2 separate regions of the Homo sapiens genome follow, and region 2 is linked to region 1. Evidence: fine-mapped expression QTL. A gene starts in region 1. The other region holds a variant in brackets. All regions are shown on one strand. Distances are from middle to middle.

Region 1 (16,296 bases):
TAAAATCAGCATAGTGCACATTTGGTTTTTCCCTTTCAACTCTTTATTCATTAAAAGTTAAGGAAGAGGCTGGGCGTGGTGACTCACGCCTGTAATCCCAGCACTTTGGGAGGCCGTGGAGGGTGGATCAGAAGGTCAGGAGATCGAGACCTTCCTGGCTAACACGGTGAAACCCCGTCTCTACTAAAAATACAAAAATTAGCCGGGCGTGGTGGCGGGCGCCTGTAGTCCTAGCTACTCTGGAGGCTGAGGCAGGAGAATGGCGTGAACCCGGGAGGCGGAGCTTGCAGTGAGCCGAGATCGCGCCACTGCACTCCAGCCTGGGTGACAGAGCGAGACTCCGTCTCAAAAAAAAAAAAAAAAGTTAACGAAGATATTCATTTTAAAAATGAACATTTGGAAGATGTTTGTTTTAAAAATGAACATTTGGAAGATGTCCATTTTAAATATGTTCATTTTAATTATGTTTTTGTCAAGATTCAAGAAATGTATTTACCACTAAAATATTAAAAGGTTTACACAAAATGACCAAACATCATCTCCAGCTCAGGTCATATCACCTTTTAATAAGGTAAAAACTGTTTTTTGAATAGGCAAGCATAAAATCCCTATGACTCAGAGCAATAAGGCTATATTAGCGTGGGGTATGATCAGAATCAATGGAAATGATGGTGTTCCATCTGTGTATCTTCCCAGCAACAAGGTGTCAGAACAGCTCAATAACTTGAGTGGAAGTAATAAATACAATATGCTTTAGCTGATTTCATTATTGTTTGGGACAAAAAGAGTGAATAATTACTTTCGCTGAGTTTGAGTTGTGGATCTGAAGAAATAACTGTAACTTTATTTGCTCTTATGATGGCCCAGTGAGTGACTCCTCTTTAACTCCAGGGACAGAATTGGATTTTCTCCATCAATGTCCCAGTGTGAGGTTTCTGCACTTCCGACTCATGTCCTCCTCCCTAGAATTCTAGCCACCAGATTTCTCCAGCCATCATGAAATCATGGTGCACTCCACAGTGCATATTACAAACGCACCAGAGTCAGCACAGCTGCAGCTGTACCTGGGAGATGGAAAACGCATCCATCACTGAACACCTACCAAGCAGCAGTGTGCAGAGTCTGTCACGCATCCTTCCTGGAGCAAGAAAACCTATTACGAAGGAAACCTTAAACACAATCTCTCTCTTAGCTCCACAATGAGATTAGAAAAACAATAGCTCTGCAATACAAATGGATGTTTTGAACAGGTGCTGAGCACAAGGAAATTTCCACAAATGTATTCACATTCAAGGAGCAAATTAGCCCTCAGGTAATTACCCACTTATTGTGATTGGGTGGGGACAGGAGGACAGTCTTCTCAATCAACTGGTCAATAATGAGATCAAAGAATCGGGGCTCCAATCCTCTTTCCATGAGAATGACCACAAGATTTCTTTACAGCCTCAGCCAGTCATTTCTTCTGAAAAATAACAAAGACCTTGCTCCCTTGAGTTTCATAGGGCATTTGCTTCAATTCTCAGCCAGCATTACAAGAGTATTACTAAGGGTATGAGGCAAAATAACACAATTTCAGGTAATAAATGGCAAGTTTAAACACATACTGCATTCAGACAACACGATGACATCTCACCAGCAGGCCAACAGGATATTCGAACAGCGGTTATTTTCCACATTTATCAAACCCTTGGGCACTCAAGCTTCTGAAGGGGGAAAAAAGGCATCTTGGATTACATTTATCACTTTAAAGAAATAACAATAATAGTCCTCAAAATCTCTGAAATTAAAAAGGTAATTTCATTGAGTATTTTCTAAAGACAAATTATATTTTACATAAAATACAATTTACTTGTAGTGAGATTATATCTTTGTTCCAATTTATTGTTCATAGTTTCATAAACAGAAAATTTAAAAGATTTAATTAATAATGGAGAACTTGACTCATTTCATTATTTTTATCTCTAAAGCTGTTCAATGATTTTCACAGACACCATATTAATCTAATGTCCTTTTATTGTATATGAAGGTAGGCATTTCTATTGTAGACATGCTTCAAGAACAGAAAACTAAAAATCAGAACATGCCAGAATCGCATATGTTCAGGGTCAAATCTGAAAGACATTTTGAAGATAACTTTGTCCAACCTATTGATTTGGAAAGTCATAAATGTATCTAAATAACTTACCCTGGTCACACAGAGTATTAGTGACACAGCTAGTATCTAGGCTCAAGGCTGTGGGACTACAGTCCAGAATTCATTGCTGTGTAATTTGTTGGTTGCCTCCATAAATCCAGCCCCATCAAATGTCAAAGAAAAGCCATGAAAAAGAAAAATCAACCAATAATTTATACAAACGTATTTAAGGCTGGGGTGTGGAATGTAAACCCTAAACTCTCAGCCACATTTGGCATCCCACTTACCCTGTTGTTTTGTTACTGATCAAATGGTAATAACACATATTCAAATGTTACTGACTCTGGATCAACTCAACAAAAACCATTAAGTCTTTTATATAAGCAAATTAAGCAGACAGAGTTATGAGTAGAACTTTTCCCATTTTTTAAATGTCACTCAATCACCATCCTCAGAACAATCATAATTACCTTAAAAAAAATGATTTCACCTTTGTAGAGTGAACAGACTTTATGTATAGCTGTCCTCTCTCTGCCAAGCACAACTGAGGGTAGAAACATGGTGACATTGAGGCAGTGTGCAACCTGTGATAAGATCAGTCTGAACAGGACTGTTCAGGACTGAACAAGGTTTCCTTCCCATATTTAAGATGGCCTTGCCAAGAATTTGTGACTTATCTTTAGCAACATTTGTCACTGCCTGTGGGAGACACTAGGGAGAGCTGTTCACAACTATTACTCTAAGTGGACCCTGAAGGAGCAATTAAATTAAGTGCTTCTTTACTGGGGACTTGCCTGTCATTGGGGTTCACAGAAAGGCCAATTCAGATTTCTAATCCAAATGTGTAGAAAAGGGTGTGGGCCCAAGTGGGGGAGGAGGGACAGCAGGACACATTCTCTGTCCCAGCTCACAGAATCTGGGTCAGGGCAGACCCAGGCTCAGGTGCTCAGAACGTGTCCACACCTGGGGACTGGAGAAAGACTGTCAGGCAGGCAAGTAGCATTTCTGGACTGCTATCCATGGAAGGCGAGGCATGGAGCAAATGTTTCCATGCTTCTCTGTATAAACCACTCTTTCTAACAGAGCTGGCCTCTCCCTGTCCCTCATAAACAGCTTGGATCTTATTTATCCCTGCTTGATCTCATTTCATCCAAATCCCACCCAGATCTAACTCTATCTCCCCTACCAAACCTTCCCTGACTCCCTGGAAGGAAAGGACCACTCTGTCTGCTGAGTCTCTGTCCCATTCAGGGGTTCTCCACCAGGCTCTGGAGGCAATAACATGGGCTTCAGAGTCTTTCCAGACCTGGGGTAAAATCTCTGAAAGTTACTGGTCATGTGACTTTGGGTGACTGCGCTTAACCTCTCCAGGACTCATTTATAATAATGAAAAGCCTTATCGCCTTATCACAGTACCTAATACAGGAAAGGGGATTGGCAATATTTTATTTCCCTTCTCCCAATTCAGGATGTACGTAGATGTATGTTTTTTCTTCCATATTAGTTAGCAAGCAGAGAGCTGACTAAATATCGATGGGTTTACTATTAAAACGCACTTCAAACAGTTCTAATTTTACTAAGCAGCACTAAACTAAACAGTTCATTAATGGCTTTGAGACTTTACTCTGTTTCTTAAATAGCTGCAGAAACTTGTATAAGTCCGTAGTCTCTCTGAATCCCAATTTTTCAATATATAGAATGGGAATAATTATACCTACCTTCAGAATTTTTGCGGGGACTAAATAAGATGACGTACATGAATCCATTTTAGAAACCATGTTAGTTGTCATTATGAATGGGTCATCTATAGAAATAATTATTCCAAAAAATTCTGCCTTGGCAGTATTAAGCCCAAGCAGATTACCTTTATTTCAACAAAATAAAAGATCCATGAACAAGGAATTCCCTTCCTGTGATGTTAATAATATGCTACCATTCAGGAATAAATGTGTGTTAGGTTAAAAGCTAAACTGTTAACATGAAGAGACCTAAATATATAGTGGCTTCATTTTTTCTCTTTTGCTCAACAATCTGAAGATATACATAAGTTGTGGGGTAGCTTCCAGACTGATGGGGCAGTCTTGCTCCACTAAGTCATTAAAGGATTTAGGTTCCTCTCAAATCAATGATTCTTGATCTCCTACGTGATGATTCTCTTTACCATAAAAGTTGCCATAACCTCTACATTTTAGTTGTAAAAAGGGACAATATAGAAAGCTCAAATAATACAATTTATTTTAAGCAAGTGAGGCAGATATTGTGCACATAACTTCTGCTCATATTTTACAGGCAAAAGTTTAGTTACATTGCTTCACCTAGCTGCCAGGGAAGCTGGGAAATGTGGTCAAGCTGGAAAGATACATGTACAGGAAAAAGGGAGAATGGATTTTTGGAAAAAAACTAATAATTGCCACAAATATGCAAGAGAACTAGAGATAAGGAACTTAGGAATAAAAGACTGGAAGTAAGAATGAATTGTATATGTTACTCCCGAGAACTGAGATTCGAGGAAGAAAAAAAGGATGATTATATACTTACACAAGAAAGAGGGCGGAAGTGAAAAGAAGAGGGTGAAAGAGGTAAACAGGCAATGAACAGTATTAAAAGTTAAAAGAGAAAATCAAGGACATGAATTAAAGAGTTATAATATCCTTACAAGGTATCCAGAAAGAGTCAAAAGTGGTGGAACCCTGAAAAATTATGCAGAACCCCAAAAGTTCCCATTTGATGGAGAAAAATGCTTTGTAGAGTTGTGGAATGACTGACTGAAAGAGAGTAGGATCTGTGCTGCGAGATGACTTGCTGGCCAAGGAAATGCTTGGAAACTTGGAAAAACTTAGGGATCTGGAGAATGTCATGAGGAGTCCTGCCTGGGCAATACCACTGCTCAATTTTTCCAGGCCTATCCCCTAACCTCAGCAAGGACCAGCTATAAAACAATCCTTTTAAAACTTTTTAGTTATTTCTATCACCCAGCCATAGCCTTGGGTGCATTTCATATTTCTCAAGACATTCGCCTTCAACTTTCCCAACATATTATCTTGGGCTTGCATCTTACATGATTAAAAAGAGAAATACCATTGTATCAGAGCTCCTCAACTTAATTACTTCCCATCTCAATCTTTCTACATCTTTAACTTCAGTCTTGGTTGAGCTCCACCCTCTGTGCTTGTTCTTGAGAAACAAGCAAAAGAGCTAAGAAAGGCTTAGAGCAAACTGGTAAACATTGTTATTTTCTTTTAGGTATCCATATTGCGACAGGGTCTTGATATAATATCCATACTAGGTATAATTTGCATACCAGATATTCAAAGAAGTAGGAGAATATGGCCATAGTGAGAAAAATAAAATCAACTCAGAAATGACAAAAATAAGAGAACTAGTAGAGACATTAAAATAGTAGTGATACAAAGAGAGGAACAATAAACACTGGGGCCTACTTGAAGTTGGAGGGTAGGAGAAGGGAGAGGAACAGAAAAACAACTATTGGGTACTAGGCTTAGTACCTGAGTGATGAAATAATAAACAAACTCCTGTGACACGAGTTTACCTACATAACAAACCTGCACATGTACCTCTGAACCTAAGGTAAAAGTTGTAATAAAATAAAATAGTTGTCATAACTATATTTCATATGCTCAAGAAGCTAGAGAAAAGACTTAGCATATCAAATAGAGACAAAGAAGATATAAAAAGATGAACAATTTCTAGAGATGAAAACTACAATGTCTGAAATTAATAATACATTGGATGAGATTAACAGTGGATTAGACATTGCAAAAAAATTAGCAAATTAGGGAAAAGTATAATAAACCTGCCCAAATGAAATAGAAGTGGAAAAATAAACATAAGAACTGTAAGTGAGCTGTAAGACAACCTCAAATAGCCTAATATACATATAATTAGACCCCATAAGGGCATGAGAAATGGGAGAAGAACAGAAAAAAATTTGAATGAATAATGGCTACAATTTTTCTAAATGTAATGAAAAATATAAACCTACAGACTTAATAAGCTCAATGAACCCCAAGCACAATAAATATGAAGAAACTCACACCAAGCCACATGATCAAAATCAATAATAAAAATAAAATCTTAAAAACAGGCAGAGTAAAAAGGCACATTAAGTACAAAGACACAAAGATAAGAATTACAGCAGAGTTTCTATACAATCAGTACAAGCAAGAAGACAGTAGAGAAACACTAAACAGTACTGAAAGAAAAAAACTGTCAATGTAGAATTTTACACTCACTAAAAATACCTTCTGAAAATGAAGAAAAAACATTTCACAAATATAAAAGTTAAAGGAATTCATCATCAGAAGATATGAACAAAAAAAAAATGTTAAAGAAAACCCAGAGACTCACAGTGAGACACACTATAATCAAACTCTCAAAAGTCAAAGACAAAGAGACAATCTTGAAAGCAGCAAAAGAAAGTAACTTGTCATGTAAAAGGAAGCCTTTATAAAATTATCAGTGGATTTATCAACAGAAACCTTGCAGGCCAGAAGGCAGGGGGATAATATATTCAAAGAGCTGAAAGAAAAGAAAATTTCAACCAAAAATATTATATCCAGCAAAACCATCCTTCAAACATAAAGGAAAAATCAGCCTTTCCAGGATGAACAAAAACTGGGGAGTTCATTACCACTGGACCTGCTGTAGTATCTTGCAAGTTGAAACAAAAGGATGCTAAATAGTAACATGAAGTCTTATGAAAATATAAAGCTCTCCAGTAAAGATAAATATATGGACATATATAGAGACTGTACTATGCAGTTTTGGTACATAAATGCACTTTTAATTCTTGTATAGAATTTACAAGACAAAAGCTTAAAAATAACTATAAAACTGTGTTAATGAATACATTACATATGAAGATGTAACTTGTGACATAAGTAACCTAAGGTGAGGGTAGGAGCTTTGAAGAAATAGTTTTTGTACACAGTCGAAGTTATTCTCTTAACAGTTTAAAATAGCTTGTTAACACTTTAAGATGTTTTTTATAATTCTTATGGTAACCATAAAAAAATCTATAGAATACACACAAAAGGAAACAGGAAGGGAATCAAAATGTCACCACAAAAAAAAATCGACAAAACCCAAAAGAGGTCAGTAAGAGAAGGAATAAAAAACAAAATTTACAAAACATACAGGAAACAACAAAATGGCAAGTGTAGGTCCTTCCCTATCAGTAATTACTTTAAATGTAAATGGATTAAACTCCTGAATCAAAAGATATAGACTGGAAAATGGATTTGTAAAAAGGATCCAACTTTATCCTGTCATTTAGGTCTAAGAAACAAATATGCTTAAAATGAAAAAAAGGAAAAGTAAATGCCATGCAAATGGTAAATAAAAGCAAGCAGAAGTGACTATACTACTATCCAACAAAATAGACTTAAAGTCAAAAATAGTCACAAGACAAAAAAATGGATATTATATAACAAAAAGTCAATTCAGCAGAAAGATATAACAATTACAAATATATATACCTCTAATACCAGAGCTCCTAAATATCTGAAGCAAACATTGACAGATCAGAGAGGAAACATAAACAGCATAATAATGGTAGGCGACTTCAATTCCTCACTTACAATAATGGCTAGAACAACAAGACAGAAAATCGATAAGGAAATACAGTACTTGAACAACACTATAAATAGTGCTAACAAACATGTGCAGAACATTCCACCCAATAAAATCAGAATAGTATTTTTCTCAAGTTTACATGGAATATTCCCAAAGATAAATCACATGTTATACCACAAAAAAACTTGTAACAAATTTTAAAAGATTGAAATTATACAAAATATCTATTTTGATGAAAATGACATAAAACTAGACATCAGTAGCAGAAGGAAAACAAAAAATTCACAAATATGTGAAAATTAAACAACACAGTTTTCAACAAGCAATGGGTCAAAAAAGAAATCACAAGGGAAGTTAGAAAATATCTTGAGATAAAGGAAAATAAAAATACAATGTACCAAAATGTGTAAGATGCAGCAGAAGCAGTGCTAACAGAGAATTTTATAGCTATAAATATGTGCATTATAAAAGGAAGAAAGTGGCTAGGCATGGTGGGTCATGCCTGCAATCCCAGCACTTTGACAGGCTGAGGGAGGAGAACTTCTGGAGGCCAGGAATTTGAGACCAGCCTGGGCAACAAAGCAAGACCCCATCTCCACAACTTAAGAAAAAAAAAAAAAGAAGTAGAAGAAAGTTTGCAAATCAACAACCTAACTTTATACCTCAGGAAACTAGGAGAGAAAAAAAACTACACCCAAAGCTAGCAGAAGGAGGAAAATCCTAAAGATTAGATTAAATCAGAGATAAATGAAATATAGAATATAAAAACAATAGAAAAAAATCAACAAAACTAAGAGGTGGTTTTTGAAAACACCAACAAAATTAACAAATGCTTAGCTAGATTAACTAAGGAAAAAAGATTCAACTAATAAATCAGAAATAAAAAAGAGAACATTAGAACCCATGCCATAGAAATCAAAAGGATTATAAGAAAATACCATCAACAGTTAATTATATGTCAACAAATTGGATAATTTAGAAGTGCATAAATTTCTAGAAATATACAACCTAATAAGAGTGAATCATGAAGAAGTAGAAAAAACGAACAGACTTATAACTACGAAGGAGATTAAACTGGTTCAAAAACCTCCAAACAAACAACAGCCCAGAACCGGATGACTACCAAACATTTAAGGAAGAATTAGAACCAATGTTTCTCAAAGTCATTTACAAAAATGAATATAAAAAACACTTCAAAGCTCATTATATGAGGCCAGTATTACCCTGATTTCAAAGTCAAACAAAGACATTACATGAAAAGAAAACTACAGACCAATATTTGTGATGATCAGGTTGGCTTTATTCCTGGAATGCAAGAATGATAGAACATGTGGCAGGGTGTGCTGGCTCATGCCTGTAATCCCAGCACTTTGGGAGGCTGAGACAGGAGAATCCCTTGAACCCAGGAGGCAAATGTTGCAGTGAGCTGAGGTCATGCCACTGCACTCCAGCCAGAATGACAGAATGAGATTTCATCTCAAAAAAAAAGAATAATACAACATGCAAAAATCAATGTAATACACTATAGTAATAGAATAAAGGACAAAACAGCATGATCATTTATATTGATGTAGAAAAAATGTTTAACAAAATTTAACACCTTTTATCACGAAAACACTCAGCAAACTAGGAATAGAAGGAAAATAACATAATAAAGGCCATATATGAAAAATCCACAGGTAAACTTACACTCAATGGTAAAAGATTCAAACTTTTCTTCTGGATTAGGAACAAGACAAGTATACTCTGTCTCTTCGCTTCTATTCAATATAGTATTTGAATTTCCAAGCAGACCAATTAGGAAAAAAAAATTAAGCAAGAAAAGACATCCAAAGAATAAAAGAAAAAAGTAAAATTATCTCTGCTCACAGATGACTTGATCCTATATGCATAAAATCCTAGACTCCTGCATAAAATCTAGAAAACTGTTAGATGCATATATGCATAAAATCCAGAAAACTGTTGGAACTATTAAACAAATTCTGGAAAGTTGCAGGATCCAAAATCGACACACAAAAATCAGTTGCCTTTCTATAAATTAACTATAAACAATCCAAAGGTAATTAAGAAAATAATTTAATTACAATACCATCAAAAATAGTAAAATACTTAGGAATAAACTTAGCCAGGGAAATAAAAGGCTTGTACACTGAAAACTACAAAACAGTACTGAAAGAAGTCACAAATAAATGTAAAGACATTGGTATTCATGGATTGGAAGATTTAATGTTAAGATCTCCAAAATATCAGATGTATTCCCCAAATCTGTACAACATTATGTATTAATTTGAAAAGTCAATAGAACCCAAAGCAGTCTACAAATTATATGTAATCCCTATCAAAATCTAAGCTGCATTTTTTGAAAAAAGAGAAAAATTTATCTAAATATTCATATATACTCTGACTAGACAATCTTGAAAACTAACTGAGTTGAAGGTCTCATGCTCCGTGATCTCAAAACATGTTACAAGACTACAGTAATTAAAACAGCATGACACTGGCTTAAAGAGAGACATATAGACCAATGGAATAGAATAAAGAACCCATTAAAAGAAAACTCCACATATATGGTCAAATAATATTTACAGCATTCCAGATCCGCTCAATGAGGGAAGAACATTCTCTTCAACAAACAGTGTTGGGAAACTTGGATATCCACACATGAAAGAGTGAAGTTGAAACTTTGTCTTATGCCATATACAAGAATTAACTCAAAATGGATTTAAAACTTAAATGGAAGATCTAAAACTATAAAACTCTTAGAATAAGGGGATATGGCAATTATTTTTTAATATGACACCAAAAGTACAGACAACAAAAGAAAAAATAGACAATTGGGACTACATCAAACTTTTTAAAACTTTTATGCATTAAAGGACATAACAATGTTAAAAAAAACTTGTGGATGGAAGAAAATATTAGTAAATTATATATCTGATAAAGAGTTAATATCCAGAATATATAAATAATTTCTACAACACAATATTTAAAAATAATATGATTTTAAAATGGCAAAAGGATTTGAATAGACATTTCTTTTAAAATTATATATGAATGGGCAAAAAACATAAGAAAAAATGCTCAGCATCCAAACTGGAAAGGAAATCATTAGAGAAATGTAAATCAAAACCACAATGTAATATCTCCTCACAAAAATTGAGTGGTTTACTATTAAGAAAAAGAAATATTAGATAGGATGCAGTTGATAGCAAACAGCTTAAAAGCAACGTGACCCCAGATACTAACTCAAAGCCACACAAAAAACAAAAAGCTCTGGCAAAGACATTTATTTATATTTTTATTTATGTATTTATTGAGGGTTTTGCTGTTTTGTTGTTGTTGTTGTTTACTGTTTTATTTTTGCTTTTTCAACTTTTATTTTAGATTCAGAGGGCACTTGTGCAAGTTTGTAACCTGGGTATATTGTGTGATGTTGAGGTTTGGGGTATGAATGGTCCCATTACCCAGATACTGAGAATAGTACTCAACAGTTTTTCAACACTTTCTCCCTTCCCTCCTTCACCACCCCAATAGTCCCCAGTGTCTATTGTTGCTATCTTTATGTCCATCAGTACCCAGTGTTTACCTCCCCCTTATGAGTGAGAATATGTGGTATTTGATTTTCTGTTTCTGTATTTGTTTGCCTAGGATAAAGTCCTCTAGCCAAATCCATGTTGCTGCAAATGACATGATTTTCTTCATTTTCTTTTATTTTTTATTTTTATTTATTTTTTTTTATTATTATACTTTAAGTTTTAGGGTACATGTGCACAACGTGCAGGTCAGTTACATATGTATACATGTGCCATGTTGGTGTGCTGCACCCATTAACTCGTCATTTAGCATTAGGTATATCTCCTAATGCTATCCCTCCCCCAGCCCCCCACCCCACAACAGTGCCCAGTGTGTGATGTTCCCCTTCCTGTGTCCATGTGTTCTCATTGTTCAATTCCCACCTATGAGTGAGAACATGAGGTGTTTGGTTTTTTGTCCTTGCAATAGTTTGCTGAGAATGATAGTTTCCAGCTTCATCCATGTCCCTACAAAGGACATGAACTCATCATTTTTTATGGCTGCATAGTATTCCATGGTGTATATGTGCCACATTTTCTTAATCCAGTCTATCATTGTTGGAAATTTGGGTTGGTTCCAAGTCTTTGCTCTTGGGAATAGTGCCACAATAAACCTACGTGTGCATGTGTCTTTATAGCAGCATGATTTATAGTCCTTTGGGTATATACCCAGTAATGGGATTGCTGGGTCAAATGGTATTTCTAGTTCTAGATCCTTGAGGAATTGCCACACTGACTTCCACAATGGTTGAACTAGTTTACAGTCCCACCAACAGTGTAAAAGTGTTCCTATTTCTCCACATCCTCTCCAGCACCTGTTGTTTCCTGACTTTTTAATGATCGCCATTCTAACTGGTGTGAGATGGCATCTCACTGTGGTTTTGATTTGCATTTCTCTGATGGCCAGTGATGATGAGCATTTTTTCATGTGTTTTTTGGCTGCATAAATGTCTTCTTTTGAGAAGTGTCTGTTCATATCCTTTGCCTACTTTTTGATGGGGTTGTTTGTTTTTTGCTTGTAAATTTGTTTGAGTTCATTGTAGATTCTGGATATTAGCCCTTTGTCAGATGAGTAGGTGCAAAAATTTTCTCCCATTCTGTGGGTTGCCTGTTCACTCTGATGGTAGTTTCTTTTGCTGTGCAGAAGCTCTTTAGTTTAATTAGATCCCATTTGTCTATTTTGGCTTTTGTTCCCATTGCTTTTGGTGTTTCAGACATGAAGTCCTTGCCCATGCCTATGTCCTGAATGGTATTGCCTAGGTTTTCTTCTAAGGATTTTATGGTTTTAGGTCTGACATGTAAGTCTTTAATCCAACTTGAATTAATTTTTGTATAAGGTGTAAGGAAGGGATCCAGTTTCAGCTTTCTACATATGGCTAGCCAGTTTTCCCAGCACCATTTATTAAATAGGGAATCCTTTCCCCATTTCTTGTTTTTGCCAGGTTTGTCAAAGATCAGATAGTTGTAGATAAGTGGCATTAATTCTGAGGGCTCTGTTCTGTTCCATCGGTCTATATCTCTGTTTTGGTACCAGTACCATGCTGTTTTGGTTACTGTAGCCTTGTAGTATAGTTTGAAGTCAGGTAGCGTGATGCCTCCAGCTGTGTTCTTTTGGCTTAGGATTGACTTGGCAATGCGGGCTCTTTTTTGGTTCCACGTGAACTTTAAAGTAGTTTTTTCCAATTCTGTGAAGAATGTCATTGGTAGCTTGATGGGGATGGCACTGAAGATTTTCTTCATTTTTATGACTGCATAGCATTCCATGGAGTATATGTACCACATTTTCTTTATCCAATTCACTGTTGGTGGGCACCTAGGTCAATTCCATGACTTTGCTGTTGTGAATAGTACTGCAATGAACATGTGAGTGCATGTGTCTTTTTGGAGGAATAATTTGTTCTCTTTTGGATATATACCCAGTAATGGGGTTGCTGGGCCAAATGGTAGTTCTGTTTTAAGTTCTTTGAGAAATCTCCAAACTGCTTTCCACAGAGGCTGAACTAATTGACATTCCCACTGCCATGCATGAGCATTCCCTTTTCTCCTCAGCTCCACCAACATCTGTTGCTTTCTGACTTTTTGATAATAGCCATTCTGATGTGTGAGATGGTAGCCCATTGGGGTTTCTTTTTTTTTTTTTAAGACAGAGTCTCACTCTGTCACCTAGGCTGTGGCACAATGTTGGCTCGCTGCAACCTCTGCCTCCTGGGTTCAAGTGATTCTCCTACCTCAGCCTACTGAGAAGCTAGGGTTACAGGCACCTGCCACCACACCCAGCTAATTTTGGTATTTTTGGTAGAGACAGGGTTTAGCCATATTGGCAAGGCTGGTCTCTAACTCCTGACCTCAGGTGACCCACCTGCCTCGGCTTCCCAAAGTGCTGGGATTGCATGCGTTAGCTACCATGGGTGGTTTTTGACTTGCATTTCTCTGATGATTAGTAATGATGATCCTTTTTTCATACATTTGTTGGCCACTTGTATGTCTTCTTTTGAGAAGTGTCTGTTCATATCTTTTGCCCATTTTTCAATGGGGTTGTTTTTTCCTTGTCCAGTTGTTTAAGTTATTTATAGATTCTGGATATTAGTCCTTTGTTGGGTGCATAATTTGCAAATATTTTATCTCATTCTGTAGGTTATCTATTTAATCTGTTGATAGTGTCTTTTCTTGTACAGAAGTTGTTCAGTTTAATTAGGTCTCACTTGTCAATTTCTGTTTTTGTTGTAATTGCTTTTGAGGACTTAATCATAAATTCTTTCCCAAGGCCCATGTCCAGAATGGTGTTTCTGAGATTTTCTTCTAGGATTCTTTTACTTCAAGGTCTTATATTTAAATCTTTAATCCATCTGGAGTTAATTTTTGTATGTGGCAAAAGTTAGGTGTCTTGTTTTATTTTTCTGCATATGGCTAGTCAGCTATCCCAGGACCATTCATTCACTAGGGAGTCCTTTCCCCATTGTTTACTTTTGGCAACTTTGTCAAAGATTAGATGGCTGTAAGTGTGCAGATTTATTTCTCAGCTCTCTATTCTGTTCAACTGGTGTAGGTATCTGTTTTCGTACTAGCACCATGCTGTTTTGGTTACTGTAGTCTTATTAGTATAGTTTGAAGCCAGGTAATGTGATGCCTCTGGCTTTGTTCTTTTTGCTTAGGATTGCTTTTTGGGCTCTCTGTTGTTGTTGTTCCATATGAATTTTAGGACACTTTTTTCCAATTCTATAAAAAAATGACATTGGTAGTTTGGTAATAATAGCATTGAATCTGTAGATAGATTGCTTTGGGCAGTATGGCCATTTTAATGATATTGATTCTTCCAATCCCTGAGCATGGAATGTTTTTCCATTTATTTGTGTCCTCTCTGATTTCTTTTAGCAGCGTTTTATAGTTCTCCTTGTAGAGATCTTTCACCTCCTTGGTTAGCTGTATTCCTAGGTATTTTAATTTTTTGTGGCTATTGTAAGTGGGATTGCAGTCTTGATTTGGTTCTTAGCCTGAATGTTATTGGTTTATAGAAATACTACTAATTTTTGCACATTCATTTTGTATCCTGAAACGTCGCTGAAGTCATTTGTTTATTCCAGGAGGCTTTGTTGGAGTCTTTAGGGTTTTCTATGTATAGAATCATATCATCCACAAAGAGAGATACTTTTCTCTCTTCTTTTCCTATCTGGACGCCTTTTATTTATTTCTCTTGCCTGATTGCTTTGGATAGCACTTCCAGTACTATGTTGAAGAGGAATGGGGAGAGAGGGCACCCTTGTCTTATTCCTGTTCTGAAAAGGAATGCTTCCAGTTTTTGCGTGTTCAGTATGATGTAATTATTTTTCTATAATAGACAGTAGAAATGCATTTTTCTTTTTTCTTAACTCATTTTAAAAACAATTATATAAAATAACATGTATACAATATACTATTGGCCCTATAATATATACAATTCTATAATACATATATGCAATATATACAATTTTAATATGTGGGTGTTATGTATGCTAATAATAGCACCAATAATAATTTAAACAATGTATATCTTTGTAACATTAATTGATATAATATAAATAAAATAACCACAAAAGAGCAAGAGAATTAAGTTCTACATGAGTAACATTTCTACATATTACTGGAATTAAGCTAGTGTGAATCTGAAACTCATACTGATAAGATATATACAGAAAATCCTAGAGAAACCACTAAAAATAAAAATACAGTGATAAAATTATTAATAAAACTTAAATACTATATTAGAAAATATTAATTCAATGAAATAGAAAGAAGTAAAGACAAAACAGGAACAACAAAGACATGATACATATAAAAAACAAAAAATCCGGGCGTGCGGTGGCTCATGCCTGTAATCCCAACACTTTGGGAGGCCGAGGTGGGCAGATCACGAGGTCAGGAGATCGAGACCATCTTGGCTAACACGGTGAAACCCAGTCTCCACTAAAAATACAAAAAATTAGCCACGAGTGGTGGTGGGCACCTGTAGTCCCAGCTACTTGGGAGGCTGAGGCAAGAGAATGGCCTGAACCCGGGAGTTGGAGCTTGCAGTGAGCCGAGATCACGCCACTGCACTCCGGCCTGGGTGACAGAGCAAGATTCTGTCTCAAAACAAAAACAAAAAAGAACTAAAATGACAGACATAAATCCCACTAAATAATAATATGCAGTGTGAATGGAATAAACAATGCAATCAAAAGGCAAAGGTGTTATATTGGATAAGAAAACATGAAGTATATATTGTCTGGAGAAAACACAATTTTGATTCGAAGACACAGAATGAAAGTAAAAGAACAGGAAAAATATATTATGCAAACAGCAACCACAAAAACACTGGAGTCAGTACACTGATATCAGACAAATAGACTTTAAAACAAAAATTGTTACTAGAGATAGAGTGGCCTTTTGTAATTACAAAGGAATCCATCCATTAGGAAGATATAACTGTTATCAACATATATGCACCTATATATATGAAGCACCAAAATAAATGAAACA
Region 2 (16,296 bases), 45 kb after region 1:
AGGAAAGCATTATTTTTCATTCATTTTACAAGTTACACCTCCCTTCTTCCCCACATCTTTGTTTAGAATCTGGACCCTGAAGTTAGAGGACCAAGATTCAAATCCCAGCCTCATCAGTACTAGCTATGTGATATTGGGAATGTTACTTGATCCCTGCTTATCTTACTTTCTGCATTTATTAAATGGGGATGAGAATAATATCTACCCAAATAAGGTGCCCAATGCAGTGCCCAACAGCATGAAGCCCAATAAAGGTTAGTTAACATCACATCCATAATTGACACCTTTAGGTATTAGATTTTCATCATCCCAGAACATTTTCCTTCTTTAAGCCTTTTTCTTTCTAAGTGGCACTTTCTTGGATACTGATTGCACTCCTCACAAACTTGAAACGTTCAAACACACAAGATGCCATTTAGGAGACATTGGAACTTGGGTTTCCTTCTCTGTAAAACTGAGTAATGACAGTCACCTCCCAGGGCTGTTGTAAGAATGAATGAGCTAGAGTATGTAAAATATCTTAGCACAGAGTGCTTAAGAAATTATTAGTTCCAGCCAAGCGTGGTGGCTCACGCCTGTAATCCCAGCACTTAGGGAGGCCAAGGCAGGCGGCTCATCTGGGGTCAGGAGTTCAAGACCACCTGGTCAACATGGTGAAACCCCGTCTCTACTAAAAATACAAAAATTAGCCAGGCGTGGTGGCATGTGCATGTAATCCCAGCTACTCAGGAGGCTGAGACAGGAGAATCACTTGAACCCAGGAGGTGGAGGTTGCAGTGAGCCGAGATCGTGCCATTGCACTCCAGCCTGGGCAACAAGAGTGAAACTCTGTCTCAAAAAAAAAAAAAAAAAAAAGAAGAAGAAGAAGAAAGAAGGAAAGAAAGAGAGAGAGAGAAAGAAAGAAAGAAAGAAAGAAAGAAAGAAAGAAAGAAAGAAAAAGAAAGAAAGAAAAGAAAGAAAGAAGGAAAGAGACAGAAAGAAAGAAGGGAAGAAAGAAAGAAAGAAAGAAAGAAAGAAAGAAAGAAAGAAAGAAAGAAAGAAAGAAGGGAAGAAAGAAAGAAAGAAAGAAAAAAAGAAAGAAAGAAAGAAAAAGAAAGAAAGAGAGAAAGAGAAAGAAAGAAAGAAAGAAAGGAGAGACAGAACGAAGGAAAGAAGGAAGGAATTATTTCCCTTTTTCCCACCCACGCCTCACCACAAACCTTGTTGTGGGGATAACATGTAAAAGTGAACAAAACTGAGAAGATCACATCGCATATCACTCAGCCTCTAGTGGGAGACACAGGCAATAAACAGGAAAAGTTAAAAACAGTACTAGGTAGTGGTGAGTGCAATTAGCCTCCCGCAGCATAAAGGGAGGAGAATAACCAGTGGCTCTTTCATGCAGAGAATCAGGGTAGACCTCTGGGGAGAGACCCGCACTCAGACTGGGATGGAATTATTTATTTTATGCGTGTTCAGTTAGGAGTAGAGGTGCTCTGTCGTGATTATCTAATCTTGGGAGGAACAATGTCAGACGGGTTTCAAGATGAGTATGAGAATTGGTCTTCCTTCTGAAAAAACAAGAATTGAGTTCACACTAATCACAAATACATCAAGCCTATTTGAGTCTTGTGTGTGTCATGGATTGAAGTGTATCTTTCCACTTAGTCAAGAAGTTCCAATGAGAAGAATGCTCCTTAACTTCCTAAGTGCAACAGAGTAGTTGAACTGAGCCATGGATGGTAAATCTACTTAAGAAAGCACATGCCATGGAAAGATAGCATTGGCTGCCCTGCCTACTTCTGATGGCACAGCCTTGCAGGAAGGGAAAGAAGCCAAGAGGCAAAAGCCTGGTCTTGTTCTGAAAGGCACAAGGAGGTGGAAGATTAGGGGAAACTCACCCAAAAATGACTCAGCTCTGAACTCAGACTCAAGAAGCCACAATAAGCAACATGAATGGAACTGGAGGGAAATAAACCAGGCGTAGAAACACAAATGTTGCATATTCTTACTCATGTGGGAACTAAAAACATGCATTTCAAGGAGAATAGAATGATGGTTATCAGAGACTGGGAACAGTTGTGGGTGGGGGTGTTAAGAGAGGTTGCTTAATGGGTACAAACATATAGTTAGATAGAAGGTATAAGTTCTAATGTTTGACAGCAGAGTAGGAGAACTATAGTTAACAGTAATATATTGTATACTCCAAAATAGCTAGACAGGAAGATTTGAAATGTTCCCAACACATAGAAATGACAAAAGCTTGAGGTAATGGATACCCTAAATATCCTGACTTGATCATTACACAGTCTATGCGTGTAACGAAATACCATATGTACCCCATAAATATGTACAAATATTATGTATCAATAAAAATTTTTAAAAAGAAGCTGCAATCAACATTTCATCATTATCTTTTCAGCAGCATCCTTACAAAGTTACAGAGACATCTTAAGATGTATCCCTCTTCCTCTGAATCTTCCTGGGATAGAACAAATGAAAACTAAACAAGGAGTGGGCTGGGAGGAGCTGTCAACATCCATCCTAAGGAAAAGTCTGTTAGGGCTATGAGCTTCCTCTGTCCTAGAGTAGAGCTGGGAAAATAGAGTCTTGACAATTGATTTCTTATTCTTTCTTTCTCTAAATCCCCAATGAATATGTTTTTCTTTTTAGTGCTCAGTGGTAGACAGGGCTTAATTCTGTTTAGTTATGCAAACAGGCCAGAAGAAACTGAAATAGGCTATAAATGTTTGAAGCTGGCCAAAAGAAGATGTAGTCACACAAGATACCCTCTGGAGGAAAGTGACTGTCAGGAAAGTCACTTTCCTGACCAGCAAAAGGACCAGCACTATTTTGTCCTGCTGAAGAAGTACATTTGTCCTGCTGCTGTCATGGGGACAGTGGCTCCAGGGCTTCCTGTGGACATGCCACAAGTTCCACTCCATGAGTCAGGAGATCATGCGGTCAGCTGGGGGGAACTTAGGGTTGCTCTCTTGAGCTTAGCCTTATGCTGCGTGTCTGCTTTGCCAACCACAAAAACGATAGTTTCATAGCAAGTTGCAGGCTCCCTGGAAACTTAACCTACCTACTAGGATACATTTACAGCTGCTTTTCTCCTGGCATCAGGCTGGAGATCAAGAAATACATAAAACATAGTCCCTGCCCTCAGTTAGCTCAGAATATGGTGGGGGAATGGAGACAGAAGCAAATACTGGTGGGACAAGTGACGATGGGCCAAAATATGGGCTTAAACAAAGGTTGTGGGAGCTCAGAAAAGGAGCAACTCACTCTGCCTGAAAGAGTCATGGAGGGCTCCACGGAAAAAGCAACATTTGTGCAGGAGGAGATTAGAACACAGAGGAGAAGGATAGCAGCACTCCAGATGAAGGGAAGGAAATGTGCCAAGATTTCATGGGAATGAGAAGATGTAAACTGCTCAGGAAAAACCATGGTTGAAGCTCTTCACAGTGGCTGAAGCATGGTGTGATTGTCAGTTTTGCTTGTCAACTTGGTCAGGCTGTAGTACTCAACTATTCAACCAAGCACTGATCTAGGTATTGCTGTGAAGGTATTTTGTAGTCGCAATTAACCTCTACAATCAGTTGACTCTATTTAAAGGACATTATTCTGTACTATCTGAGTGGACCTGATCCACTTCATCCCAAAGGTAAATGATTCTCCAACAGTGTTCTCATCTACATCTAGGGCTTGGAAGATGAAGGTGAAGGAGAATATGGAAAAACAACAAGAAAAAAGTCAATCAATCAGAACTTCCAGCCCTGTGTTTGTTAGTTCACTTTATGTTCAACCAGTATGTCTCCACTTTTATCTGCTTCCTTGTAAGATTTCATCTGAAAAAGGGAATTCACTCTTCAGGTGTTGGAAATCAATTATGAGAGAAGCACTTACAGAATGACTATCTGAAGAGCTCTGCAGACATTCTCCAGAGTAAAACAACCATAACCGGTGAAAATTAAAAACAAACAAAATAAAAAAATGTTAGAGTATTGGAAATTGTTCTAAGGGCCGACAGCAAATGAAGAAATCCAAGAAAGCCTACCAATTTCAGTGAGAGGAGTGAGAGTCTATGGTGTTGAGTCTATGGTGTTTAAGTTCTGTTCATTTCCTCCCTCTCCTGCAATCAGTTCAGTGAAACAGAAACCCTGCTCCAGAGATGTGCAGCCAAAAAGACAGGGTGCCCTTTCCCCTCAGCTCCCAATCTAGGGCAGACTACCAGCATTTCCCAAGCCCATCTCTGGCTCTATGTTGCAGAAGTTCTATTCCAAGAAAGTTTGACTGAGAATCTGAAGCTTCCTTCTTCCACTCAGCCTCTACTATTAAGGCGTAAGTTCTATCCCCAGTGCCACGGGCCAAGAATACTGATGCTGAATGTCCTTGCTCCGCTACACTCATAGGGCAGAGATTCCATGGGAGGAGTGAAGTTTCCATTCCAGAAAAGGCAGAAAAACAGAAATTACTGCCCAATCCAGTACCCCACCCATAAAGAAGGAAAGACATCTGAGAAAAGCATGACACTGTCCCCAAAACCACCTGCAGAGTAGTGGCAGTAGAGGCAGTAGGGAGACTAGAGGACCTGCCTAGAGGGAGAAGTAGGCCATAAGAAGAAAAGTCTCTAGTTCTCCCTAAAGGGACAAACTTTATTTGCAACAGAACATGCGGAAGTTCAAGCCTAAGGGCACTGTCAAAAACAATGAATATTTTGGTGGTAAGCAATTAATAGGTTAATGGCAGCTTAGTGAGAGCAACAAACTAAACCATAAACCAGCTAGACATATACAATAAAAATCCAAGAAAGAGAGAGCCAAGAAGGGCCTTCCTGAGGTTAAAACAAACATCAAAGTCTTGTCTGAAAAACTGCTCCTGCAAAGGAAGCAAAATATATTTGGATCAGACTGTGGAGCAATTTATGCCCCTAAAAAGCTGTCAAAACCAAAAGAGCAATTATCTAGCAATTGCTGGAGGTTAACAGTTGGGTATGATACCAAAAGAGGCAAACAACTGAACAGATCAGAGAAAGAGGCAGTCAAAGAGAGCACTGCTAAATGCACTGTAATTCCAATTTGAGAGAAAATGTGCCCAGTGCTGTGACTCCCTCAGGAACAACATCAGAGGCCACAAATTATGGTGGAAATAGGCTTCACTATATAGTCTAGCCAGGCAATTAAACAAATAAACAATTAAACAACAGTAACATAGTGAGGGGGGCAGAAATGAGTATTGCAACTAGCTAGAACATATTTTTGAACAAAAAAATTATGAGTCAAGCAGAGATATGGAAAAGACAGAGCCATACACCAGAAAAAAGGTAAGCAAGAGAAACTGCCTTTGTGAGTGCCAAGATGTCAGACATAGCAGAAAAAAAACCTCAAAGTAATTATTATAAATATGTTCAAAAACTAAAAGAAAATGTGCTTAAAAAATAAAAGATGGTATGATAATTTCTTGTCAATTCAAAAATACCAATAATAGATTAAAAATATTTTTTCAAAAGTTAATTAACCAAATGGAAATTCTGGGGTTTAAAAGTAAAATAACAACAATAAGAACATTTTGCTAGAGGAAATGAACAATAGATTTGTACCAGAAGGAAAAATAATCAAATAAACAGGGATTTCATCAACACCAAACCTGTCTTACAAGAAATACTAAAGGGAGTTCAATCTGAAAGAAAGAACATTAACAAGCAACAGGAAATCATCTGAAGGTACAAAACTCACTGTACCTTCAGATGATAATAAGTCCTCAAAAAACACAGAATATTATAACACTGTAATTATGGTGTGTAAGCTACTTATATCATAAGTAGAAAGAGGAAAAGATGAACTGATTAAAAAACAATTACAACAGCTTTTCAAGACAGTATAATAAGATATATAAATAACAGAAAGCTTAAAAGCATATAAATAAAGTTAAAATGTAGAGGTTTTTTTAGTTTTCTTTTTGCTTGATTGTGTATTTATTTATGCAATCAGTGTTGTTTTCATCAGCATAAAATAATGGGTTATAAGATAGTATTTGCAAGCCTCATAGTAACCTCAAATTTAAAAACATACAATGTATACACAAAAAGTGAAGAGCAAGAAATTAAAACATACCACCAAAAAAAATACTTTCACTAAAAAGGAGACAGGAAGTAAGAAAAGATGGGAGAGAAGATCACAAAACAACCAGAAAATAAATAACAAAATGGCAAGCAAGTCCTTATTTGTCAATAATAATATTGAATGTAAATGGACTATACTCTCCAGTAAAAAGATACAGAGTGGTTGAATGGATTAAAAAAAAGGACCCAATGATCTGTTACCTACAAGAAATAAACTTCACTTATAACAATACACAGACTAAAAATAAAGTCATGGGAAATGATACTTCACGACAATGGAAACCAAAAAAGAACAGGAGTAGCTATACCTTTATCAGACTAAATAGATTTCAAGACAAAAATTGTTAAGAAAAACCAAATAAGGTCATTATATAATGATAAAGAGATCAGTTAAGCAAGAGGATGTAACAATTGTAAATATATATGCACTCAACATTGGAGCACCTAGATAAATAAAACAAATATTATTAGAGCTAAAGAAAGATAGACCCCCTCCCCCAAAACAATAATAGCTGTAGATTTCAATGCTCCACTTTCAGCATTGGACAGATCTTCCAGACAGAAAATCAGCAAGGAAACATCAGATGTAATCTGAACTATAGACCAAATGGGCCTAATAAGTATTTACAGAATATTTCATCCAAAGGTTACAGAAGACACATTTTTCTCCTTAGCACATACATCATTCTCAAGAACAGGCCATATATTAGGTCATGAATCAAGTCTCAAAACATTCAAAAAAACTGAAATAATCTCAAGCATCTTCTTTGACCACAATGGAATAAAACTAGAAACCAATAACAAGGGGAATTTTGGAAACTATACAAAAACATGGAAATTAAACAATATGTTCCTAAATGATAAGTGGGTCAATGAAGAAATTATGAATTGAATTGAAAATTTTCTAAAAACAAATGACAATGGAAACATAATGCACCAGAACCTATGGGATACAACAAAAGCAGTACCAAGAGTGATATTTCCAGATAAGGGCCTACATCAAAAAGGAAGAAAAACTTCAAGTGAATAACCTGATGATGCATCTTAAAGAATTAAAAAGGCAAGAGTAAACCAAACCCAAAATTAGTAGAAGAAAAGAACTAATAAAGATCACAGTAGAAATAAATAAAATTGGACTTCTGCTCCAAGATGGCCTAATAGAAACAGCTCCAGTCTGCAGCTCCCAGCATGATTGGCACAGAAGATGGGTGATTTCTGCATTTCCAACTGAGGTACCAGGTTCATCTCATTGGGACTGGTTGGACAATGGATGCAGCCCATGGAGGGTGAGGTGAAGCAGGGTGAGGAGTCACCTCACCCCGGAAGCACAAGTGATTGGGGGATTTCCCTTTCCTAGCCAAGGGAAGCCGTGACAGACTGTACCTGGAAAATCGGTTCACTCCCACCCAAATACTGTGCTTTTCCCATAGTCTTAGCAACCGGCAGACCAGGAGATTCTCTCCCAAGCCTAGCTCATCAGGTCCCATGCCCACGGAGCCTGGCTCACTGCTAGCACAGCAATCTGAGATCAACCTGCGAGGCTGCAGCTGGGTGGGGGGAGGGGTGTCAGCCATTGCTGAGGACTGAGTAGGTAAACAAAGTGGCCAGGAAGCTCAAACTGGGCAGAGCCCACCGCAGCTCAGCAAGGCCTACTGCCTCTATAGATTCCACCTCTGTGGGCAGGGCATAACTGAACAAAAGGCAGCAGACAACTTCTGCAGATTTAAACGTCCCTGCCTGACAGCTCTGAAGAGAGCAGTGGTTGCCCCAGCATGGCATCTGAGCTCTGAGAACAGACAGACTGCCTCCTCAAGTGGGTCCCTAAACTCCATGTAGCCTAACTGGGAGACATCTCCCCATAGGGGCCGACAGACACCTCATACAGGTGGGTGCCACTCTGGGACAAAGCTCTCAGAGGAAGGATCAGGAAGCAATATTTGCTCTTCTGCAATATTTGCTGTTCTGCAGCCTCTGCTGGTGATACCCAGGCAAACAGAGTCTGGAATGGACCTCCAGCAAACTCCAGCAGACCTGCAGCTGAGGGACCTGACTGCTAGAAGGAAAACTAACAAACAAAAAGGAATAGCATCAACATCAACAAAAAGGACATTCACACCAAAACCTCATCTGTAGTCACCAATATCAAAGACCAAAGGTAGATAAAACCACAAAGATGGGGAGAAACCAGAGCAGAAAAGCTGAAAATTCTAAAAACTGAGCACCGCTTCTCCTCCAGAGGATTGCAACTCCTCACCGGCAACGGAATGAAGCTGGGTGGAGAATGACTTTGACAAGTTGGCAGAAGTAGGCTTCAGAAGGTCGGTAATAACAAACTACTCCAAACTAAAGGAGCATGTTCTAACCCATTGCAAGGAAGCTAAAAAACCTTCAAAAAAGGTTAGACAAATGGCTAACTAGAATAAACAGTGTAGAGAGGAACTTAAATGACCTGATGGAGCTGAAAACCGTGGCATGAGGACATCATGATGCATGCACAAGCTTAAATAGCTGATTAAATCAAGTGGAAGAAAGAATATCAGTGACTGAAGATCAAATTAACAAAATAAAGCAAGAAGATAAGATTAGAGAAAAAAGAGTAAAAAGAAATGAAAAGCACCTCCAAGAAATATGGGACTATGTGAAAAAACCAAATCTACACTTGATTGGTGTACCTGAAAGTGATGGGGAGAAGGAAACCAAGTTGGAAAACACTCTTCAGAATACTATCCAGGAGAACTTCCCCAAACTAGCAAGGCAGGCCAACATTCAAATTCAAGAAATACAGAGAACACCACAAAGATATTCCTCAAGAAGAGCAACCCCAAGACACATAATTGTCAGCTTCACCAAGGTTGAAATGAAGGAAAAAAATGTTAAGGGCAGCCAGAGAGAAACGTTGGGTTACCAACAAAGGGAAGCCCATCAGACTAAAAGTAGCTCTCTCAGCAGACACCCTGTAAGCCAGAAGAGAGTAGGGGTCAATATTCAACATTCTTAAAGAAAATAATTTTCAACCCAGAATTTCATATCCAGCCAAACTAAGCTTCATAAGTGAAGGAGAAATAAAATCCTTTACAGACAAGCAAATGCTGAGAGATTTTGTCACCATCAGGCCTGCCTTACAAGAGCTCCTGAAGGAAACACTGAACATGGAAAGGAACAACTGTTACCAGCCACTGCAAAAACACGCCACATTGTAAAGACCATCGATGACATGAAGAAACTGCAACAATTAACTGGCAAAATAAGCAGCTCACA[G/A]CATAATGACAGGATCAAGTTCACACATAACAATATTAACCTTAAATGTAAATGGGCTAAATGCCTCAATTAAAGACACAGACTGGCAAATTGCATAGAGTCAAGACCCATCAGTGTGCGGTATTCAGGAGACCCATCTCACATGCAAAGACACACATAGGGATGGAGGAAGATCCACCAAGCAAATGGAAAGCCAAAAAAAAAAAAAAAAAAAAAAAAAGCAGGGGTTGCAATCCTAGTCTCTGATAAAACAGAGTTTAAACCAACAAAGATCCAAAGAGACAAAGAAAGCCATTACATAATGGTAAAGGGATCAATACAACAAGAAGAACAAACTATCCTAAATATATATGCAACCAATATGGGAGCACCCAGATTCATAAAGCAAGTCTGTAGAGACGTACAAAGAGATGTAGACTTCCACACAATAATAATGGGAGACTTTAACACTCCACTGTCAATATTAGACAGATCAATGACACAGAAGGGTCACAAAGATATCCAGGACTTGAATTCAGCTATTCACCAAGTGGACCTAATAGACATCTACAGAACTCTACACCCCAAATCAACAGAATGTACATACTTCTCAGCACCACATCATACTTATTCTAAAATTGACCACATAATTGGAAGTAAAACACTCCTCAGCAAATGTAAAAGAACAGAAATCACAACAAACTGTGTCTCAGACTACAGTGCAAACAAATTAGAACTCTGGATTAATAAACTCACTCAAAATCACACAACTACATGGAAACTGAATAACCTGCTCCTGAATGACTACTGGGTACATAATGAAATGAAGGCAGAAATAAAGATGTTCTTTGCAACCAATAAGAACAAAGACACAACATACCAGATTCTCCGGGACACATTTAAAGCAGTGTGTACAGGGAAAATTATAGCACTAAATGCCCACAAGAGAAAGCAGGAAAGAACTAAAATCAACAACCTAACATCGCAATTAAAAGAACTAGAGAAGCAAGAGCAAACACATTCAAAAGCTAGCAGAAGGCAAGAAATAACTAAGATCAGAACAGAACTGAAGGAGATAGAGACACAAAAAGCACTTCAAAAAAATCAATGAATCCAGGAGCTGGTTTTTAAAAAGATCAACAAAATTAATAGACCGCTAGCAAGAATAATAAAGAAAAGAGAGAAGAATCAAATTAGACTCAATAAAAAAAGATAAAGGGGATATCACCACTGATCCCATAGAAATACAAACTACCATCAGAGAATACTATAAACACCTCTACATAAATAAACTAGAAAATCTAGAAGAAGGGGGAGGAGCCAAGATGGCCAAATAGGAACAGCTCCAGTCTACAGCTCCCAGCGTGAGTGACACAGAAGACGGGTGATTTCTGCATTTCCATCTGAGGTACCGGGTTCATCTCACTAGGGAGTGCCAGACAGTGGGCACAGGTCAGTGGGTGCGCGCACTGTGTGCGAGCCAATGCAGGGTGAGGCGTTGCCTCACTCGGGATGTGCAAGGGGTCAGAGAGTTCCCTTTCCTAGTCAAAGAAAGGGGTGACAGATGGCACCTGGAAATTCGGGTCACTCCCACCTGAATACTGCACTTTTCCAACGGGCTTAAAAAACGGCGCACCTGGAGAGTATATCCCGCACCTGGCTTGGAGGGTCCTATGCCCACGGAGTCTTGCTGATTGCTAGCACAGCAGTCTGAGATCAAACTGCAAGGCAGCGGCGAGGCTGGGGGAGGGGCGCCTGCCATTGCCCAGGCTTGCTTAGGTAAACAAAGCAGCTGGGAACCTCAAACTGGGTGGATCCCACCACAGCTCAAGGAGGCCTGCCTGCCTCTGTAGGCTCCACCTCTGGGGGCAGGGCACAGGCAAACAAAAAGACAGCAGTAACCACTGCAGACTTAAATGTCCCTGTCTGACAGCTTTGAAGAGAGCAGTGGTTCTCCCAGCACGCAGCTGGAGATCTGAGAACGGGCAGACTGCCTCCTCAAGTGGGTCCCTGACCCCTGACCCCCGAGCAGCCTAACTGGGAGGCATCCCCGAGCAGAGGCAGACTGACACCTCACACAGCCGGGTACTCCAACAGACCTGCAGCTGAGGGTCCTGTCTGTTAGAAGGAAAACTAACAAACAGAAGGACATCCACACCAAAAACCCATCTGTACATCACCATCATCAAAGACCAAAAGTAGATAAAACCACAAAGATGGGGAAAAAACAGAGCAGAAAAACTAGAAACTCTAAAAGGCAAAGCGCCTCTCCTCCTCCAAAGGAATGCAGTTCCTCACCAGGAATGGAACAAAGCTGGACGGAGAATGACTTTGACGAGCTGAGAGAAGAAGGCTTCAGATGATCAAATTACTCCGAACTACGGGAGGACATTCAAACCAAAGGCAAAGAAGTTGAAAACGTTCAAAAAATTTAGAAGAATGTATAACTAGAATAACCAATACAGAGAAGTGCTTAAAGGAGCTGATGGAGCTGAAAACCAAGGCTCGAGAACTACGTGAAGACTCAGGAGCCGATGCGATCAACTGGAAGAAAGGGTATCAGCGATGGAAGATGAAATGAATGAAATGAAGTGAGAAGGAAAGTTTAGAGAAAAAAGAATAAAAAGAAATGAACAAAGCCTCCAAGAAATATGGGACTATGTGAAAAGACCAAATCTACATCTGATTGGCGTACCTGAAAGTGACGGGGAGAATGGAACCAAGTTGGAAAACACTCTGCAGGATATTATCCAGGAGAACTTCCCCAATCTAGCAAGGCAGGCCAACATTCAGATTCAGGAAATACAGAGAACGCCACAAAGATACTCCTCGAGAAGAGCAACACCAAGACACATAATTGTCAGATTCACCAAAGTTGAAATGAAGGGAACAATGTTAAGGGCAGCCAGAGAGAAAGGTCGGGTTACCCTCAAAGGGAAGCCCATCAGACTAACAGCGGATCTCTCGGCAGAAACTCTACAAGCCAGAAGAGAGTGGTGGCCAATATTCAACATTCTTAAGGAAAAGAATTTTCAAACCAGAATTTCATATACAGCCAAACTAAGCTTCATAAGTGAAGGAGAAATAAAATCCTTTACAGACAAGCAAATGCTGAGAAATTTTGTCACCACCAGGCCTGCCCTAAAAGAGCTCCTGAAGGAAGTGCTAAACATGGAAAGGAACAACCGGTACCAGCCGCTGCAAAATCATGCCAAAATGTAAAGACCATCGAGGCTAGGAAGAAACTGCATCAACTAACGAGCAAAACAACCTGCTAACATCATAATGACAGGATCAAATTCACACATAACAATATTAACTTTACATGTAAATGGACTAAATGCTGCAATTAAAAGACACAGACTGGCAAATTGCATAAAGATTCAAGACCCATCAGTGTGCTGTATTCAGGAAACCCATCTCACGGGCAGAGACACACATAGGCTCAAAATAAAGGGATGGAGGAAGACCTACCAAGCAAATGGAAAACAAAAAAAAGGCAGGGGTTGCAATCCTAGTCTCTGATAAAACAGACTTTAAACCAACACAGATCAAAAGAGACAAAGAAGGCCATTACTTAATGGTAAAGGGATCAATTCAACAAGAAGAGCTAACAATCCTAAATATATATGCACCCAATACAGGAGCACCCAGATTCATAAAGCAAGTCCTGAGTGACCTACAAAGAGACTTAGACTACCACACATTAATAATGGGAAACTTTAACACCCCACTGTCAACATTAGACAGATCAACAAGACAGAAAGTCAACAAGGATACCCAGGAATTGAACTCAGCTCTGCACCAAGCAGACCTAATAGACATCTACAGAACTCTCCACCCCAAATCAACAGAATATACATTTTTTTCAGCACCACACCATACCTATTTCAAAATTGACCACATACTTGGAAGTAAAGCTCTCCTCAGCAAATGTAAAAGAACAGAAATTATAACAAACTGTCTCTCTAACCACAGTGCAATCAAACTACAACTCAGGATGAAGAAACTCACTCAAAACTGCTCAACTACATGGAAACTGAACAACCTGCTCCTGAATGACTACTGGGTACACAACGAAATGAAGGCAGAAATAAAGATGTTCTTTGAAACCAATGAGAACAAAGACACAACATACCAGAAATTCTGGGATGCATTCAAAGCAGTGTGTAGAGGGAAATTTGTAGCACTAAATGCCCACAAGAGAAAGCAGGAAAGATCCAAAATTGACACCCTAACATCACAATTAAAAGAACTAGAAAAGCAAGAGCAAACACATTCAAAAGCTAGCAGAAGGCAAGAAATAACTAAAATCAGAGCAGAACTGAAGGAAACAGAGACAAAAAAAACCCTTCAAAAATTAATGAATCCAGGAGCTGGTTTTTTGAAAGGATCAACAAAATTGATAGACCGCTAGCAAGAATAATAAAGAAAAAAAGAGAGAAGAATCAAATAGATGCAATAAAAAATGATAAAGGGGATATCACCACCGATCCCACAGAAATAAAAACTATCATCAGAGAATACTACAAACACCTCTATGCAAATAAACTAGAAAATCTAGAAGAAATGGATAAATTCCTCGACACATACACTCTCCCAAGACTAAACCAGGAAGAAGTTGAATCTCTGAATAGACCAATAACAGGAGCTGAAATTGTGGCAATAATCAATAGCTTACCAACCAAAAAGAGTCCAGGACCAGATGGATTCACAGCCGAATTTTACCAGAGGTACAAGGAGGAACTGGTACCATTCCTTCTGAAACTATTCCAATCAATAGAAAAAGAGGGAATCCTCCCTAACTCATTTTATGAGGCCAGCATCATCCTGATACCAAAGCCGGGCAGAGACAAAACCAAAAAAGAGGATTTTAGACCAATATCCTTGAGGAACATTGATGCCAAAATCCTCAATAAAATACTGGCAAACCAAATCCAGCAGCACATCAAAAAGCTTATCCACCATGATCAAGTAGGCTTCATCCCTAGGATGCAAGGCTTGTTCAACATATGCAAATCAATAAATGTAATCCAGCATATAAACAGAACCAAAGACAAAAACCACATGATTATCTCAATAGATGCAGAAAAGGCCTTTGACAAAATTCAACAACACTTCATGTTAAAAACTCTCAATAAATTAGGTATTGCTGGGACGTATCTCAAAATAATAAGAGCTATCTATGTCAAACCCACAGCCAATATCATACTGAATGGGCAAAAACTGGAAGCATTCCCTTTGAAAATTGGCACAAGACAGGGATGCCCTCTCTCACCACTCCTATTCAACATAGTGCTGGAAGATCTGTCCAGGGCAATCAGGCAGGAGAAGGAAATAAAGGGTATTCAATTAGGAAAAGAGGAAGTCAAATTGTCCCTGTTTGCAGATGACATGATTTTATATCTAGAAAACCCCATTGTCTCAGCCCAAAACCTCCTTAAGCTGATAAGCAACTTCAGCAAAGTCTCAGGATACAAAATCAATGTACAAAAATCACAAGCATTCTTATACACCAACAACAGACAAACAGAGAGCCAAATCATGAGTGAACTCCCATTCACAATTGCTTCAAAGAGAATAAAATACCTAGGAATCCACCTTACAAGGGATGTGAAGCACCTCTTCAAGGAGAACTACAAACCACTGCTCAACGAAATAAAAGAGGATACAAACAAATGGAAGAACATTCCATGCTCATGGGTAGGAAGAATCAATATTGTGAAAATGGCCATACTGCCCAAGGTAATTTACAGATTCAATGCCATCCCCATCAAGCTACCAATTACTTTCTTCACATAATTGGAAAAAACTACTTTAAAGTTCATATGGAACCAAAAAAGAGCCCGCATCACCAAGTCAATCCTGAGCCAAAAGAACAAGGCTGGAGGCATCACACTACCTGACTTCAAGCTATACTACAAGGCTACAGTAACCAAAACAGCTTGGTACTGTTACCAAAACAGAGATATAGATCAATGGAACAGAACAGAGCCCTCAGAAATAATGCTGCATATCGACAACTGTCTGATCTTTGACAAACCTGAGAAAAACAAGAAATGGGGAAAGGATTCCCTATTTAATAAATGGTGCTGGGAAAACTGGCTAGCCATATGTAGAAAGATGAAACTGGATCCCTTCCTTACACCTTATACAAAAATTAATTCAAGATGGATTAAAGACTTAAATGTCAGACCTAAAACCATAAAAACCCTAGAAGAAAACCTAGGCATTACCATTCAGGACATAGGCATGGGCAAGGACTTCATGTCTAAAACACCAAAAGCAATGGCAACAAAAGCCAAAATTGACAAATGGGATCTAATTAAACTAAAGAGCTTCTGCACAGCAAAAGAAACTACCATCAGAGTGAATAGGCAACCTACAGAATGGGAGAAAATTTTTGCAATCTACTCATCTGACAAAGGGCTAATATTCAGAATCTACAAAGAACTTAAACAAATGTTCAAGAAAAAAACAACCCCATCAAAAAGTGGGCAAAATACATGAAAAGACACTTCTCAAAAGAAGACATTTATGCAGCCAACAGACACATGAAAAAATGCTCATCATCACTGGCCATCAGAGAAATGCAAATCAAAACCACAATGAGATACCATCTCACACCAGTTAGAATGACGATCATTAAAGTCAGGAAACAACAGATGCTGGAGAGGACATGGAGAAATAGGAATGCTTTTACACTGTTGGTGGGGGTGTAAATTAGTTCAATCATTGTTGAAGACAGTGTGGCAATTCCTCAAGGATCTAGAACTAGAAATACCATTTGACCCAGCAATCCCATTACTGGGTATATACCGAAAAGATTACAAATGGTGCAACTATAAAGACACATGCACACGAATGTTTATTGTGGCACTATTCACAATAGCAAAGACTTCTAACAAACCCAGATGTCCATCAATGATAGACTGGATTAAGAAAATGTGGCACAT

The links. PIP is the estimated chance that this variant, and not a neighbour inherited with it, causes the effect.
Region 2: its variant is the best candidate, but not a certain one, in a credible set for the expression of OR13A1 in whole blood (TOPMed, PIP 0.55).

Annotation. Positions count from the first base shown.
Region 1 is chr10:45,306,106-45,322,401 of GRCh38, forward strand. OR13A1 (olfactory receptor family 13 subfamily A member 1) reads right to left here and starts at 9,503. Exons shown (of 4, transcript NM_001004297.3): 1 at 9,419-9,503; 2 at 1,634-1,703; 3 at 1,321-1,462.
Region 2 is chr10:45,351,510-45,367,805 of GRCh38, forward strand. No RefSeq gene overlaps it. Among named protein-coding and RNA genes, the nearest start is that of ALOX5, 15 kb to the right of the region's middle. The variant G/A (reference allele first, on the strand shown) is at 9,362.